2 separate regions of the Homo sapiens genome follow, and region 2 is linked to region 1. Evidence: fine-mapped expression QTL. A gene starts in region 1. The other region holds a variant in brackets. All regions are shown on one strand. Distances are between the middles of the regions. Region 1 holds the start of CDKN2A (cyclin dependent kinase inhibitor 2A). Region 2 holds the start of CDKN2B-AS1 (CDKN2B and CDKN2A antisense cis and trans regulatory RNA 1).

Region 1 (9,130 bases):
TTGGTCCTGATGTCCCCAGAACCCCCTGGGGCAGCTCTGGAAAACTCTACCGCATAAAGCGGAGGGTCAGATTAGCTGAGGAGGGTCAGATTAGTTGAGTTGTGCAGAAGAGCCGAGATCGAGAGATCTCCAGATGATGCCACGCACAATTGGGTTTGGAAATCCTGAGGTTGGTCCAGCCAGCTTGGTATGCAAATGAGGAAACAGACCTGGTAAGTGGATGCAACTGGCCCTAGTTTGGAGGAAGAGGGGGCACTAGACCTCTAGCCTCTTGAGTCTTCATTGCTCCGCAGTCTAGGCCTTGAACTAGCAGAGGGTAGGTGTTTGGGTGGTGGTATGCTTTGGGAAGTATAATGTACAAAATGGGCTTTCACGTGCGCAAGTCCATTTCGGGATTATTTCCCATTTGCCGCCCTGGCGGGGCAGGGCGATAGGGAGACTCAGGCCGTCCCACCGATTGGCGCGTGAGCTGAGGCAAGACCGGAGACTGGTCTCCCGGGCTGAACTTTCTGTGCTGGAAAATGAATGCTCTGAGCTTTGGAAGCTCTCAGGGTACAAATTCTCAGATCATCAGTCCTCACCTGAGGGACCTTCCGCGGCATCTATGCGGGCATGGTTACTGCCTCTGGTGCCCCCCGCAGCCGCGCGCAGGTACCGTGCGACATCGCGATGGCCCAGCTCCTCAGCCAGGTCCACGGGCAGACGGCCCCAGGCATCGCGCACGTCCAGCCGCGCCCCGGCCCGGTGCAGCACCACCAGCGTGTCCAGGAAGCCCTCCCGGGCAGCGTCGTGCACGGGTCGGGTGAGAGTGGCGGGGTCGGCGCAGTTGGGCTCCGCGCCGTGGAGCAGCAGCAGCTCCGCCACTCGGGCGCTGCCCATCATCATGACCTGCCAGAGAGAACAGAATGGTCAGAGCCAGGGTGGGGGCCGGCATGACGGAAAGGAAGCTTGTGTAGAGCCCCCTCACCGCCAAGCAGACCCCCACACAAGCCCCAGGTGTCTAATTACCCCTACATTTGCTTCCAGTTTCCAATTTCCTTCTTGAGTTCTCTATCCATTCTTCAGTACACAATGAATTCCATTATATCCTCCGAACTTCTGCGGAGCTGTCGTCACAGGCAGAGAGCACTGTGAGGCACGGGCAAAATAGCAAAGGGGCAGGGACAGACTGACTTTTACTCCAGGCTAACTTCCTGTATTTCCCCTGAGATACAACTACTGAAATTTCTTCCTGAAATTATGTTAGGCCTGGAGATTTTTTTTTTTTTTTTTGTTCACTGCTGTATATCCAAGCGCAGAATGTGGTAATTGTTAAAAAGAGAAAACTTGTTTGTTTGTTAAAACAAATTCTCACAAAACTTTTAAGTTACACTTAGCTTCTGGGAATGTTGAACTTCAATTTCTTTTTCATTATATTAGTTTTAAAATTATATATTGGGATAGTACAGTTGTATATATTTATGTGGTACAATATGAAGTTATGATCTTTGAACACAATGGGGAATTATTAAGTCAAGCTAAGTAACCTATCCATCATCTCAAATATTTGACATTTTTGTCAAATGAGAGCATTTGGGATTTACTATTTAGCTATATTCATCATGCTATGAAACACATCTCAAAAAAAACAATCAAACTTATTCCTCCCATCTTAACTGAGGCTTTATATCTTGATTACCATCTCCCCATTCCTCCCACCCCCCAGCTCTAGTAACCACCATTCTACTCTTTACTGCTAAGAATGTAATTGTTTTATATTTCACAGATAAGTGAGAACATGTGATATTTGTCTTTCTGTGTTTGGCTTATTTCATTTAGCATAATGCTCTCCAATTCCAAAACTTCAATTTCTTCAAGTATAAAATAAGAAGGCTAGTTTAATTAACCCTAAAATTCCTTCCTGTGGTAGGCTGAATAATGCCCCCCCACCCCCAATGTCTATGTCCTAATCCTCAAAAACTTTTAATACATTAACTTATGTGGCAAAAGAGGCTTTGCAGATGTGATTTAATTAATGGTCTTGAGGGAGATTATCCAGAATTTTCAGGGTGGGCCCAACATAACCCCAAGTGTTTTTATTAGAGGGTCACAGTCAGAGAGAAGATACAAGAATGGAAGCACAGGCCACAGAGAAAATACAGAGACCATGAGCCAAGGAATTTGATGGTCACTAGAAGCTGGAAAAGACAAGGAAACAGATTGCCCCTTAGAGTTTCCAAAAGGAATGAAACCTTGTGGACCCATTTTTGACTTCTGATCTCTAGAACTGTAAAATAATAATTTTGTGTTTGTTTTAGCTAACACATTTGTGATAATTTGTAACAGCAGCAGTAGGAAACTAAAACACTTCCCAGGTTTATGATTTGAGAGTTCATTAAACAAGAGATGGTCACCTCTTTGGTTCCTAAATCATCTTGGAAACAAAGCCATTTCCAGAGAGGAATTTTAAAATACTGTCTGCAGTCATAGCAACCTTAAAATTTGAGTGCTGCATGGTGGAAGTAGACAATTTATTTTAGGATAACTGTTATTTGTTATATTAGTTTGAGGATGGTGGTGTTAAAGAGGAGTTACTTATTTTTAGGTACATTTCATACTAAACACAAATTGCATAATTTGCCTAAATCAAGGAATTATACTAAATTATATTATGGTTATTAAATCCTGTCCTGAGAAAGTGAAACTGACTCAGTTTTCAAAGAGACAAAGAGAAAGTATAAGCAAACCAAATTGCAGCTACAAAAAGAAAGACAAAATGTTGCAGTATATTTATTGTTTTGTGTATTCAATGAAGTCCTTCGTCTTGGTCATAAAACTAGCCTTAAAGGTTTTTCTTATATTTCATAGTATGAAAAATCTAAAAAGTAACCCATATGTAAATATTTAAATCATGATAGAAATCCAAAGCAAAAAGAAAATGAATCAATTGAATTAAAATGTGTAGGATGCTTAAACCCATTTGATAATATATCCATTTGATAATATACTAATATGAATTTAGTACTTTAAAATGTTATATAAATAAATGTTCCTATATTAAACACCAATGTAGTTAGGATTCTAAGCCAACATCATTTCCCCTTTTCTACATGTTCTTCTCCCGTCTCCATTAAAAATTGTCAAAACTATCCACTTTTCTTTTTCCTTTTTGTTTTTAAACAAATAAGGTCTCTTCTAAGATATTGTAGGACTACAAAGCCAAACTCCCGGGTTCAAGCTGTTGGCAAAATTTTAGAGATGCTAAGTTACCCATGTATTAATTACTTTTAAATCCTCCCCTAACTCCCTCACAAAACAGGAGTAGGGAGAGGAGAAACACCTCTGTTCAAAAATGAGGAATTGAAAACTCTTATCACAAATAAACTATATCAAGTAAGCTAAAGATAGTAAAAGAGCAAAAATGTTAGCAGATATTCCCAAAATGGTAACTACATATTACCTCTGGAATGATCACATGAATGTGGCTCATTATTTCCTAAGTTCCTACAGCAAACATATATTTATTTGCCCTACTCAGTTAAAAATAAACACAATATGTAGTTGCTTCTGAATAATTTTTCTCTCTCTCTTTCTCTCTTTCTTTCTTTCGACAAAGTCTCACTCTGTCACCCAGGCTGGAGTGAAGTGGCTCCATCTCGCTGTTCACTACAACCTCAGCCTCCCGGGTTCAAGCGATTCTCCTGCCTCAACCTCCCGAGTAGCTGGGATTACAGGCGCCTGCCACCACCCCCGGCTACTTTTTGTATTTTTAGTAGAGGCGAGGTTTCACCTGTTGGCCAGGCTGGTCTCGAACTCCCGACCTCAGGTGATTCCCCCCGCCTTGATCTCCCAAAGTGAAGGGATTACAAGGCGTGAGGCACCGCGCCCGGCCGCTTCTGAATAATTTCGATCAAAATTTATATTCGATATTTATTCCAACATACACCACAGATTTCCACTGATAATCCCTCCTAGTAAGAAAGATAAGCTCCATCCAGGTATCTGTGAATTGGAGGCTAAGTAGTCCCAGCACATCTTACATTTCTTTAAGACTCCCTTTTTATCCCAAACGTTCGTAAATTTTGTATCTGATAAAGAGCATACTTCCATCTAATACAAATATGTTCCCCCCTTCAGATCTTCTCAGCATTCGAGAGATCTGTACGCGCGTGGCTCCTCATTCCTCTTCCTTGGCTTCCCAAGCCCCCAGGGCGTCGCCAGGAGGAGGTCTGTGATTACAAACCCCTTCTGAAAACTCCCCAGGAAGCCTCCCCTTTTTCCGGAGAATCGAAGCGCTACCTGATTCCAATTCCCCTGCAAACTTCGTCCTCCAGAGTCGCCCGCCATCCCCTGCTCCCGCTGCAGACCCTCTACCCACCTGGATCGGCCTCCGACCGTAACTATTCGGTGCGTTGGGCAGCGCCCCCGCCTCCAGCAGCGCCCGCACCTCCTCTACCCGACCCCGGGCCGCGGCCGTGGCCAGCCAGTCAGCCGAAGGCTCCATGCTGCTCCCCGCCGCCGGCTCCATGCTGCTCCCCGCCGCCCGCTGCCTGCTCTCCCCCTCTCCGCAGCCGCCGAGCGCACGCGGTCCGCCCCACCCTCTGGTGACCAGCCAGCCCCTCCTCTTTCTTCCTCCGGTGCTGGCGGAAGAGCCCCCTCCGACCCTGTCCCTCAAATCCTCTGGAGGGACCGCGGTATCTTTCCAGGCAAGGGGACGCCGTGAGCGAGTGCTCGGAGGAGGTGCTATTAACTCCGAGCACTTAGCGAATGTGGCACCCCTGAAGTCGCCCCAGGTTGGGTCTCCCCCGGGGGCACCAGCCGGAAGCAGCCCTCGCCAGAGCCAGCGTTGGCAAGGAAGGAGGACTGGGCTCCTCCCCACCTGCCCCCCACACCGCCCTCCGGCCTCCCTGCTCCCAGCCGCGCTCCCCCGCCTGCCAGCAAAGGCGTGTTTGAGTGCGTTCACTCTGTTAAAAAGAAATCCGCCCCCGCCCCGTTTCCTTCCTCCGCGATACAACCTTCCTAACTGCCAAATTGAATCGGGGTGTTTGGTGTCATAGGGAAAGTATGGCTTCTTCTTTTAATCATAAGAAAAAGCAAAACTATTCTTTCCTAGTTGTGAGAGCCCCACCGAGAATCGAAATCACCTGTACGACTAGAAAGTGTCCCCCTACCCCCTCAACCCTTGATTTTCAGGAGCGCGGGGTTCACTAAGTCAGAAACCCTAGTTCAAAGGATTCCTTTTGGAGAGTCGGACTGCTCTCTCCTTCCCCTCCCCTTCCCCTCCTGCGTGTAAAACGGCTGTCTGGGGCAAGGGTTTCTCAGACGTGTACATTGCCTGGTATAAGAGCAGACTCTGAAAAGATGAGGTTTATTTAATACGGACGGGGGAGAATTCTGCCTGTAGGCAGATAGGAAAATGGGGAGGGAGTCATTGGAAGGACGGACTCCATTCTCAAAGTCATAATTCCTAGACCAGAAAAAGTGCTCAGTGTTCTAGAAGCAGAGTTGCACAGTGATCCAAAGACCAGCTTCAAATACTGTCCTGTCTCCTTCACACTTCTCACATTTCTCTTTCCTACTGAAAATACCTTGCATTTTTCGTAATTATAAAGGGGGAAGGGAATATGAGTGCCCCCTGCTTTATAGGGGTTGTTGTGAGTTTAAATGATGTATTAATACATATAAGCCTTAAGAACAGTGCCACACATCCTAAGCTAATACCTGTTAGCTCTTGAATTATCCGCTTTGAGGACTGGCTTGCAATCTTGTTTTGAGGCATAGAAAGAAAATGCTTTGGAGCAGGACGCGGTGGCTCACACCTGTAATCCCAGCACTTTGGGAAGCCGAGGCGGGCAGATCACCTGAGGTCAGGAGTTCGAGGCCAGCTTGGCCAAAATGGTGACACCCCGTCTCTACTAAAAATACAAAAATTAGCTGGCCATGGTGGCGCACGTGTGTAATTCCAGCTACTCAGGAGGCTGAGGCAGGAGAATCGCTTGAACCCGGGAGGCAGAGGTTGCAGTAAGCCGAGATCGCGCCACCACCCTCCAGCCTGGGTGACAGAATGAGACTCCGACTCAAAAAAAAAAAAAAAAATGCTTTGGATAGAATTATCACTATTACATAAAAGGAAAGTCCGGATGCGGTGGCTCACGTCTATAATCCCAGCATTCTGGGAGGCCGAGACAGGCGGATCACCTGAGGCCAGGAGTTCGAGACAAGCCTGACCAACATGGCGAAACCCTGTCTCTACTAAAAAATACAAAATTAGCGGGGCTTGGTGGCGCATGCCTGTAATCCCAGCTACTCGGAGGCTGATGTAGGAGAATCGCTTGAACCCAGGAGAAGGCGGAGGTTGCAGTGAGCCGAGATCGCGCCATTGCACTCCAGCCTGGGAGACAAGAGCGAAACTTGGTCTCAAGAAAAAAAGAAAGAAAGAAAGAAAGAAAGACCAAGAAGAACTTACTCCCTGAAAAGATTATGGGCACCCTCCACCACCCTCACTTACAAAGAAAAGTTAAACAGCACTAAAGAGTATAACAAGCGCAAGGAGGTAAAAGTTCTAATTTTTCCTGTGACTACTACTTTTTAAGCTTATCAAAAACATGTACTACGTTTTAAAAAATGGATTGCTCAGACTTTGCTGATGCCTTAAGCACATGCTTAATCTGCCTACTGGATAATCCAGCTCTGTTTAAAAGTTATATTTCAATCCCTGGTTGACTTAAACCTTGTAGACCCAGTATATCTTGTACTTTTAGTGTCTGCTTGATTTTAAAACATGTAGTTTTTAAAATGAAGCCAATGAAAACAATTTGGGATGTCAAGTATGTTATTAAAATCTACAATGCATTACTGTACCATTTATATTTTCCTCGGGGTACCTCTCAATTAGCTGTGTAGCAATGATAGGGAAAATTCAAACTATCGATAAATAAAATTATTTTAGTTTAGTTTAAGATATTTTATGATGGAGGAGGAAGAAAGTGGTTGCCAGGATGGGAGGGAGGGAACACATTTCCATCACTAATACAATGGTTCTTTCTTTTTGTTTGTTTGTTTTGTGTGTTTTTTTGAGATGGAGTTTCGCTCTGTTGCCCAGGCTGGAGTGAAATGGCACCGCACGATCTCTCTCGGTTCACTGCAACCTCCGCCTCCCGGGTTCGAGCAATTCTCCTGCCTCAGCCTCCCGAGTAGCTGGGATTACAGGCACATGCTGCCATACCCAGCTAATTTTTGTATTATTAGTAGAGACGGGGTTTCACTATGTTGGCTAGGCTTGTCTCGAACTCCTGACCTCAGGTGATCCACCCACCTTAGCCTCCCAAAGTGCTGGGATTACAGGCATGAGCCATCGTGCCCGGCCTACAGTGGTTCTTAATGGGGGTGGGAGAGTGGGAAGAGTAGGCTCCTTCAAGAGTCTGTTGAAATAAATACCTTCTTCTCAAAAAAGAAAGTAGGTAATGATTTTTTTTAAAAAAGATGTGTTCACTTGCACATGTATTTCTAGATAAAACTTTCAGTGAATTCAGGGATTTCTCTGAAACTCTACCATGGATTCCTACATCAAGAACTCTTTCAGCTCTTGTGAAAAATATATATAGCTATTGGTGAAGAAGATGGGAGATGCAACCATATAAAAACAACATTTGGATGCATTATAAACAGGTGTAAAAGTTGACTGCTTTGGAAATACCAAGAACAAGTTTTAGATATGTATATCTCATATCTTGCAGTAGAGCTCTGGAAGGATTATGGCATCCTTGGGTGGGGCCATTTTGCTCTAGAAATTGAAGTCCATTATCCATTATAAATCTTATGTAGGGGGGAGGGGGGAGGGATAGCATTAGGAGATATACCTAATGCTAAATGATGAGTTGATGGGTGCAGCACACCAACATGGCACATGTATACATATGTAACAAACCTGCACATTGTGCACATGTACTCTAAAACTTAAAGTATAAATAATAATAAAATTAAAAAAATATTATGTAAATAATTAATAATAGTGGGAAAACTTTCCTAGTTTTTCTGTTAAAGAGCCCATTATACTCCCAGTTTACTCATACATATCGACCTGAGGTGCAAAATCCTAGAAGAATGAAAATATAAAGTCCTGGATCTCTGTGCTCCTTATGCCAGTCTCAGATTTCCTATGTGCAAAATGGGATTATAATATATTTCATGTGGCCATAAAATATGATAATGTATGTCCAAAAGCTTTTAATGTAAAAATTTACTACATTTACTAAATTTACTAAAGTTTGTTGGTTATTGTTATTATTATTCTCACACTTACTTTTCCTCTTTCCTGAGAATGCCATTCTTTTTTTAGATTTGCACTGCCTTTGCAGTTTTGAAAATTCTACACGTGAAATTTAAACCTGTCTTAATTCTGATCAGTCTTATAACAAAAAAAGACTACCACCTGTTCATTCATTCAACAAGCTCAGAAACTAAGGGCAGACATGGGGTGGGGGCAGAGGGGAGTAGGTCAAACATAGTATCTCTACAGTCAGACTGCCAGGGTTCAAACCTCAACTGTTCCACTTATTGGTTCTTTAACTTTTATCAAAGTTACTCAACATGTCTGGGCCTCTGTTTTCTCATTTGCATGATTAGGATAATAACTGTACTTGCCTCAAACAGTTGTTTAGGGATTAAATGAAGCATGTAACGCTCTTAGAAGAGCAAAATAAAGCACAGAATGATACAAGAAAATGAAAAGGTGACCAAACTCATTCTCATTTGTCTCTAGTAGGCAAAGGCTTCCGGATGCTGAGAGCTGATCCCAGTCTTGAAGAATGATGTGAGAGTTTAAAGATGGAAAAGAAGGAGAAAGATATTCTAGGCAGAGGTAAGAGGATGTGCAAAGGCATAGAAGTTTAGGAAAACTGAAAGTGATTCATTTAGACTTATTCCTGAAAACCAGCCTGTGAAGGACTCCTCAGAGAGCCAAAAGAAAAACTAGGATAATGGGATGGCAAGGAAGTGGGGACACTGCGTTGACTACTCTTTCATAGCTTGGTTGTGATAGTTCAAGGCCCTATGCCATGAAGTGAGGCAGATGGAAGGTGGAGGAGACCTGAGCACACATATACCTGGAAGGGCAAGTGCCAAGTGAAGAGAAGGGAAAGTTAGAAAAGAA
Region 2 (9,130 bases), 20 kb after region 1:
GAGAGAGAGAGAGAGAGAGAGAGAGAGAGAGAGAGAGAAACTGTTTACTGTTTGGAATCTTGCTTTAAAAAAACCTGACTTTATAATGCAATCATTTAACAGTCTATGAAATATTCTTCAGATACCTGATGATCCAGAATGTAACTGTACCATAATTTAACACTTTATTGCTAGAATTTTATGCAGTTTTTGATTTCTTGCTACTACTTATCCATCTGTATTAATCTTTGTCAGAACCTTTCTTTCCTTAGGATGATGCCTGAATATAAAATAGCTGAATGAAAGTGGATGGGTTCATTTTAAAATACAAAATTGTTTTTCTTGATGGTGAAGTGTTTAAGAGGTGGATTAATCTCATTGGGCAACAAATAGAGAAGATATTAGTAGTTAGGTATATGAGAATCAGAATTCAGATAATTTGTCTTAAAAATTCATATTCAATGTAAAAATTTTATATTTAGAAAATGAAACTGTACCCATTGTTTATATAACTTAAACTGCCAAAATAAAGCACCACAAAAACTTTTTATCACGTTGGTTTTTGTATCAGGCTGGGCTTTGCAGCAGATGGAGGAGCTAGGGCAAGCTTGTCCAACCTGTGGGCCCGAGGGTCACATGCAGCCCAGGATGGTTTTGAATGCTGCCCAACACAAATTCATACACTTTCTTAAAGTATCATGAGTTTTTTTTTTTTTTTAAGCTCATCAGCTATTGTTAGTGTTAGTGTATTTAATGTGTGTCCCAAGACAATTCTTCTTCTTCCTATGTGGCCCAGGGAAGGTAAAAGATTGAACACCCCTGGCCTACAGTGTTCTACTATGAAGTTTCAGTTTTAGTTCGGCCTAGAATGTTTTAGTACAGAAGGCAAGTGAGATTTTCTCTGTTTCTCCAAGGACTTTTGAAAAAGTGTAAAAGCACTGGGCCCACTGTTGAACCTTGCTATAAAAAAGTATTTTTGATACCATTTGTATCACTTTAGTAATAGGAGTTTTTCATATGTTGGGAAAATGGTTTAGCTTAACTCTATCATGGTAGTTGATAGTGATGAACTAACGTGGAATAATAGATCTGTAAACCATCATAGACGGTAATAGGCTATGTTGTTGCTACCTTAGGATCATAATGGACTTTCTAAAATTCAAGAGTACTCAAAGAAGTAAAATGAATATAAGTCTTGATTTCTGAAAGGGCTATGGTTCACTTGGAACACAATACAAACTGTGAATCATGTACACATGGGGAATAATGGTTTATACTAACTGCACAGTGCTTACCTTGAGAGGACTCTGTGCTATTAAAGAAAAAAATAACCTGAGCCTTCTGAAGTAGCTATAAACAAATGAATATTTAACTTCATAATAAAAATATGACTATTTTGTAAATGCACCAAGGTAGAAGTAACAAATCAACTATGGCAATTTTTCAGGTTTCTGTGGTTAAGAAACTGGTAACGTGGAATTTTAGTATATGTATTTCCAATCATATAAAAATAAAAAGTCATAATAAACATATTTGCAGAAACTTAAAAAAAGTTAAAATAACATCTTATTTGCAATGATATTAAATAATTCATACAAGTAATTTTTAGCACTTGTGCCTCTCAAGGAATTGTATGAATCCTAACATAATTAGTATCCATATATATTCCCAAATCAATATAGCCATGGGCATAAAATATATTAATGTGAAATATATAATTACATATCATTATAATTAACACCGCTAGATTTTATATTATGTATATCATTTTACATATGAAATTGGAAAATTGCATATATTTCAAGACATTCTATCCAAGCTGTGTTCTATCTTGAGAAACTTCCTGAAGATTGCGCTTTTCACATACGTCCTGAAAATTGATTTATACCTAAATAACAAAAAATGATCTATTTCAATGAACCTATCATTTAAATATTTTTGCATTTCATGCATATACATTAACATACTATAAAATATTTTCTCTAACTTAAAATCACCACAATGTTATGTTTTATAGGCCTAAACTAAAAAATACATAATTATGGCATTTATATACATTGACATGTTCTACTTTGTTACTACAGATTTTCAGAGGCAACTTAATAATTTAAACAAAATGATTTTATATAGAATAATATTAACTAGAGTAATAAATATTTTTATATAGACAATAATATTAAGAACTATATTCATACAGTTACCGGTCACAGTGGCTAAACTTTTGCTGATACGGATAAACCACTGTTAAAAAAAACAACAACCAGGGTCTTGTCAATGTTTCAAAATGAATTAAAATCAAATCCAGCAACAGGCCCTGAAATCCTTTATAAGCTCCTTTGACTAAATTAAAAAAATTAACTTGCATAATATGAAAAGTAAAAAATAAAATGTGCATTTATCCTATAGATTATAAATTTTTGCTAATAGAAATTGAGACACTAAATTAAACACTGATAGTTTTAACAGGTTTATATTTCCATGTCAAAGAGACAATTAACATTGCAGTAAAAAAATAATTACCCCTCCGCTGGCCTTTGCTTTTTGAAGCTATATATTCCTGGCGAAGCATACCACAAGGACGGTCATAAAAGTGAAGCCTCATTAAATTACTTTTAGACTTATTACACAAGTTTTAATTAGCATTGTACATATTTTAACTGTACATATATTCTTTCAGTTTTCCTGGTTATAGGAAATTACACTGGCTGTGTCAACATTTGTCAATGTGAGGACAAAACTACCTTGGATTCTGTTTTTCAAGAAGTAGGCCTCATTTTTAAACTGTGCTAACTGTCGTCTGAGATGACTAAAATACTATCAGTTGGGATTTCTCAGGAACAGTTCTACAGTTCTGTCGTTTGCTAAACATACGAGCATTGTCCCGAGCAGTTTCAATCACTCAGGCCGCCGGACCTCTACCTCTAACTCACAAAGAAAGCCCATTTCCCTGTTGGCTGCAAAACTCCCCCAAGAAGCAAGTGCTTGCTCCTCGCAGCAGTAACTGATCCTACGATCCTTGTTAGCATTTCAGGAAGTCGCTGCCTGCGTGCCCCGTATCTCACGGGTCCTCCACTCTCCTGGAAGGTGGGAGAGGGTGACCCCGCCGGGAGGCTGGGGAGAAAAAAGGCCGCCTCCAGAAAACTTAGATGGTTAGCAATAATTCTCCCCAAGGAGAAAGAAAGTGTGCTTGAAATACACCTTTCCTACTGTGTGTGTGTGTGTGTGTGTGTGTGTGTGTGTGTGTGTGTGTGTGTCTTAGTCATTCCCACCCAGGATATTCGGGACTCACTGACTTCTGAGGTGGGTTTAGAAGCTCTGTTCGCCTCAGTTTCCCACGATTGAGGGGCTGTGTGAAGGGAGGTCCAGGTTCAATGGTACTGCGAGAACCACATGTCTAAGTCGTTGTAACCCGAATGGGGAAGCCTCCACCGGCGGTTATCTCCTCCTCCTCCTAGCCTGGGCTAGAGACGAATTATCTGTTTACGAAATCACACCAAACAAAACAAGTGCCGAATGCGCCCCGGACTTTTCGAGGGCCTTTCCTACCTGGTCTTCTAGGAAGCGGCTGCTGCCCTAGACGCTGGCTCCTCAGTAGCATCAGCACGAGGGCCACAGCGGCGGGCGCCCCTGGCGCTGCCCACTCCCCCGTGAGCCGCGGGATGTGAACCACGAAAACCCTCACTCGCGGCGGGCCGCACGCGCGCCGAATCCGGAGGGTCACCAAGAACCTGCGCACCATGTTCTCGCCGCCTCCAGGGCCGAGCTCGGCAGCCGCTGCGCCGCCCTTTGGCACCAGAGGTGAGCAGCGCCACTCCTGCCCCCTTAACTGCAGACTGGGACCCACGCACCGCCCCCTGCCCATCTCCGCCCCGCAGGCGCGCACCCGCCTTCCCTGAGCGCGCCCGCCCCCCACCTTCACCCCCACCCCCACCCCACCCCCACTCCCACCCGGACCTCCAAGATCTCGGAACGGCTCTGAGCCCTGCGCACGCGGGAAGGGCTGCCGGAGGCGCCCGTAGGGAGGCGCGCGCGCGGGCGGCTCAGGGCCCGCGTTCCTCTCCCTCCCGCCTACCGCCACTTTCCCGCCCTGTGTGCGCCCCCACCCCCACCACCATCTTCCCACCCTCAGCGCGGGCGCCCCGCGGTGACGGCCCAGGGGCCGGACGCCTGGAACGCAACTCCAGGCAGCTCGCCCCCTAGCTACATCCGTCACCTGACACGGCCCTACCAGGAACAGCCGCGCTCCCGCGGATTCTGGTGCTGCTCGCGTCCCCGCTCCCCTATTCCCCTTATTTTATTCCTGGCTCCCCTCGTCGAAAGTCTTCCATTCTTCAAACTAGATTATTTAAAAATGAAAAAGGAAGAAAGGAAAGCGAGGTCATCTCATTGCTCTATCCGCCAATCAGGAGGCTGAATGTCAGTTTTGAACTAAAAGCCGCTCCGCTCCTCTTC[T/G]AGATTTGGAAAACAAGCGAAATTAAACTAAACCGCTGCACGCCTCTGACGCGACATCTGGACACGGCGCGGCGCTGGCGCTGCCGGAGCTGTCGACCCGGCCTGGCGCCGGACTAGGTAGGTGGAGTCGCACCCGGGGGTCCCAGCTGGGTCCGGGCGCCCATTCCCCTCCCAGCTGCCCGCGTCGCCGAGGGCGCCTGGCTGGGACAAGCACCGAGTCCTTTGTGTCTAGCCCATTTTTATTTTCGGTTTTAACCTTCACGACAGCCGCGGAGCATCTGAGCGCTTCTTCCTCTTTCCTCTTCCCCCGCGCTCCCCTCCCCTGCTGGCCGCTCCCCTCCTGTCGCCGCGTCCTCGCGTAGAATGGTTGTCTTGGCGACCGTTGGCCGCTGCCGCCTCCACGCTCTGCCCCGCGCCCAGACACCCCGACTCCCCTTGATCCCGCCGCCTGACTCCTCGGCGTACGTTCTCTCTCCGGTCTCCCCCTCCATGTCCCCTCCTCCCCTTTTCTTCCACATCACCGATCCTTTCTGGACTCTCTCCCTTCCTCCTTTCCAGCTGGGAGACAGGAAAAGCGGTCCTGTTTGGGAACAGTAAAAGCAGGGCAAGGAAAGGAAGGAGCGGCAGAAAGGAGGGGTGAGTCGAGGACACAGGGGCAGCCGGAGAATGCGGAGGAGCCGGGTCCTGAGCGCGGTCTAAGCGAGGCTCGGCTCTCGTCCAGGAACTCGGACGCGGGCTCGCCGGCTCTCCGCGCGCGGGAAGTCGAGCCCAGGACGCCGCCTTCAGGCCGGCGCGCTGACCCGGTGCCCCGACCCGGAGCCTGCGGTCTGCCTGGATCCGTCCTAAACCTCGCGGGCTGGACCCGCGGCCTGAGTGGGTGGGTGTGTGCCAGAGGATTCGGGACTAGGCCCAGCTCCGGGAACCTGGAAATGTGGCCCGCTTCTCAGTGGCTTCCTGTTCATGCGCTTGGGCCTAGTGGCCTAGTTGAAGAAGTGGAACCACAGCGTGAGCCGACAGGGCCTTACAGATCAGACGTCAAGCCCCCCAGACCTTACAGGGGAGGAAAGTGAGGCCTGCACTGGCCGAGCCACCCACTTAAGGCGGTGCGGTAGCCTAGAGGAGCGGCAGACTTCTCTTTCCCCATCCCCCGCCCCATCACTTGACGTTGCTGCCGGACCTCGGTACAAACCCAAGACAAAACGGGGCCCTTTGGAAAAAGTGAGATTTAGCGATCACTCTTACGTAGCCACTCTAAATATCTATCTAGATATTTACAAATGCACCTCCCCGGTAGGTAGATTTCACTCAGAATTTACCCAACACCGTGCTTTGTGCTGGGGCCACATGCCACCTTTCTGTCTAGTATGGCTGCTCTTTCTCCCTCTTCGCAAATATAGCTCTTTTTCCTTCAGGTCTCTTCTGAAGTAAGTAGCCCTTCCTCAGAAATGCTTCCCTTTTCAGGCACCCTCATACCACCGTGATTTTTTTCTTTATAGCACTTAGGACGAAGAGATTATTTTACTTATGTACTTGTTTACTTGTTTGTTGTGTAGAATGTCAGCTCTATGGGAACCAGATCCTTTTATGGGTCTTCCTCTGCACCTATGCCACGCCCCCAGCATTCCCCTCCTACCACCACCTTCAGCCGGCCTCCGCCTCTGTAGGGGGGCATTAGGTTTTCTGTCCCACAGAGGAAGGGCGCTTTAGAAAGGGTTAGTTCATCCTGGAAGAAAAACGATGTCGGATGCCAGCATAGTGTCATTTAAAGATACTGGAGGAATGGAGTGGGAGCGGTGAGGGTTTCTTGGGCCTAGACAATGTAACTAGTTGTTGCAATAAAGCATGGTGGGGAAAGGAGAAAAGGCACGTATTAAACATCTTTTGAAGTCGCTATCTATATCAGTCAGTTCTCCAGGGAAACAGAACCCATTGTGTGTGTGTGCGTGCCAGTACCACACATATGTATATGTATATACACACCGTCATGGGGTTGCTTAACAACAGGGATACATTCTCAGACATGTATCTTTAGGCGATTTCATTGTTGTGCAAACATCATATACAAACCTAGGTGGTATAGTCTATTATACATCTAGGCTGTATGGTATGGGCTATTGCTCCTAGGCTGCAAACCTTTACAACATGTTACTATACTGAATACTGTAGATAATTGTAACAAAATGTAGTTTTATATCTAAACACATCTAAACATAGAAAAGGTAGTATGTTGTGCTACAACTTTAGGACAGCTATGACATCACTAGGGGATAGGAATTTTTCACATCCATTATAATCTTATGGGACACCACCAATATGTGACTGTGGTTGACTGAAGCATCGTTATCCAGCACATGACTCTGTGTGTGTATACAATTTTATATATACGTACATTATATGTCTACACACACATATGTGGGGGAGAGAAAGAGAGGGAGGGAGAGAGAGAGAGAGAGAGAGAGAAAGAGAAAGAGAGAAAATACTTATTTTAAGGAATTGTCTCAGAAAATGGTGGGGGTTGACAAATTGGAGACCCAGGGAAGAGTTGTTGTTGCAAGACTTGAATCCAAAGGCAATCTGGAAGCAGAATTTCTTCTTCCTTGAGGGACCTCAGTCATTTCTCTTAAGCTCTTCAACTGCTTGGATGAGGACCACCCATATTATTGAGGATAATCTGCTTTTTCAAGTCTACTGACTTAAATGTTAATCATATCTAAAAAATACCTCCACAGCAATATTTAGACTGGTGTTTGACTCAAACACTGGGTACCACAGCCTAGCCAAGTTGACATACCAAATTAACTGTCACATTATCCCGTCATGCCTGAGGGGTTCTCTGACCCTCAGTTTTCTGAGGATCAAATTTAAATTGAGGGATCTATCTTTGTTTATTGGAGCCATATAGCTCAAAGTATAATCATTTTCTCTCCACAGGAACTAGACCTAGGGATAAGGGTAATTGCTTATTTCAGAGGAATGCCATCTGAATAAAAGGATAATTATATAGTAAGCTCTCTGTTCAAAAAATGTAAATATTAAAGTTTGAACATCTAAATTCCATCTTGGTTTCCCCCACTGCCGCTGCCCAATACCTGTTCTCTTTCAGTTGCAGTATGCAGGGGAATTCTAAGTTTAATATTAGTCTCAGCAAAATACAATGGTGAAGATGACTCTTTCTAGCATAACAATGGGTATGTGGTATTCCAAATACTTTTGGAATGCGGAGTGACTATTGGCTATGTGCTCTTCAAAAAATTAATAATGAAGAACTGAGCATGTAATTTCACTTATATTACTTATTTTATCCTCACAGTGGCCTTTCAAAATTGGGATTATTACTCCTGTTTTACAGGTGGAAAGAATGAGGCCTAGAAAGGCTCAAATCTTGAACACTTCATGGCCAGCAAGAGCCAGGGCTGGAATCATCAGGCAGGCCTTTGGGTTACAAGCCTTGTGCCTTTTCTGTTGTCCCAAAGGCCAGGGTCAATAGGGAGTGAGTTATCTGTGGGTCACTTATGCAGACAGAATCACTGAATATTGGAAGTTTTTGGGGTTCTCTTCCACTGGCCTAAAAACCTGAGTTAATTGAGTTTTTTTTAACAGGGGTAAATAATTTTCTGTTTTAGATCAGCAAATTCATTCCATAGGCAGGGATAGGGGAGAAAAATCTTACTGAATATCCCTTGTCTTGTTCTCCTCCTCCCCAAACTTAATGTCCTATGACACTAGCTTTATCCCTTAGGTAACTCTTGATTATCCAAATTTCATGAGAAACTTTCCTAACATTGCACATGCTCAAACTCAAAACCCCAAAGTCATAAGAAAAAAGATAACATAAGCAAGAATAAAAAACAATTATTTGATCATATATGTCAAAAGATTAATTACTAGACTATATAAATAAATACATAATCCAGTAAAACAACAATCCAATAAAAAAGGCAAAGGATATAATAGTTTATAGTAGAATATGTGCAAATAGTAAAAAATAAAAAGATAATCTTACTCATTAATAAATGTAAACAGAAACAATGGCATATAACCACAAGTGTGGCAAAAAGAAAAAAGACTACTTTGACAAAGTTGTCAGGAAACAATCACTCTTACTATTACAACTTGGTGTAATTGTTTTGAAAGGCAGCATTACAATATCTAGTCAAAACTGTATGAGAATATAGGTACCCTTTGACTCAGCTATTCCACTATTTTAAGTATGTAAAGACACACACAAATAATGTATGGAAATATATATACACATATATACTATATAGTATATATAGTTCATATGTATGTTATATGTTTGTGTATATATCTATATACTTATATACACCCTTTGACTCAGCAATTCTATTCCTATAACTCATGTATGTAACATATATAATACATATCTTTATATACACATATGTACACACATATCTGTAAGTATGGGAAGATGTATACACATGTACACATATATATACATACATATGTATATATGTATTTTATGTATGGATACATATGTATATATGGATAGATTTTACACCTACAGACACATTTAGATATGTAACTTCAGCTAAAGCAATTCACTCCTATATAAATTGCTACAGATAACTTGTATAAGTATGCAGAAATGTTTCTTTATAGCAGTGTGTATTAGCAAACAAAGTGCAAGAAAGAGAAAAATGATTGACATGCTTGTGAGGAGACTTTTTTTGTTGTTGTT

The links. PIP is the estimated chance that this variant, and not a neighbour inherited with it, causes the effect.
Region 2: its variant is fine-mapped to the expression of CDKN2A in esophagus muscle (GTEx, PIP 0.99).

The regions. Positions count from the first base shown.
Region 1 is chr9:21,970,321-21,979,450 of GRCh38, forward strand. CDKN2A (cyclin dependent kinase inhibitor 2A) reads right to left here and starts at 4,537. Exons shown (of 3, transcript NM_000077.5): 1 at 4,358-4,537; 2 at 582-888. The coding sequence starts at 4,507. RefSeq lists silencers at 4,495-4,544, 4,765-4,864 and an enhancer at 5,045-5,094.
Region 2 is chr9:21,990,614-21,999,743 of GRCh38, forward strand. It overlaps CDKN2B-AS1 (CDKN2B and CDKN2A antisense cis and trans regulatory RNA 1), which reads left to right and starts at 4,178. Exons shown (of 19, transcript NR_003529.4): 1 at 4,178-4,548. It overlaps LOC124902130 (a long non-coding RNA gene), which reads right to left and starts at 3,415. Exons shown (of 2, transcript XR_007061436.1): 1 at 3,273-3,415; 2 at 1-1,867. It also overlaps a transcript of CDKN2A not described here. RefSeq lists silencers at 3,852-4,111, 4,432-4,631. The variant T/G (reference allele first, on the strand shown) is at 4,432.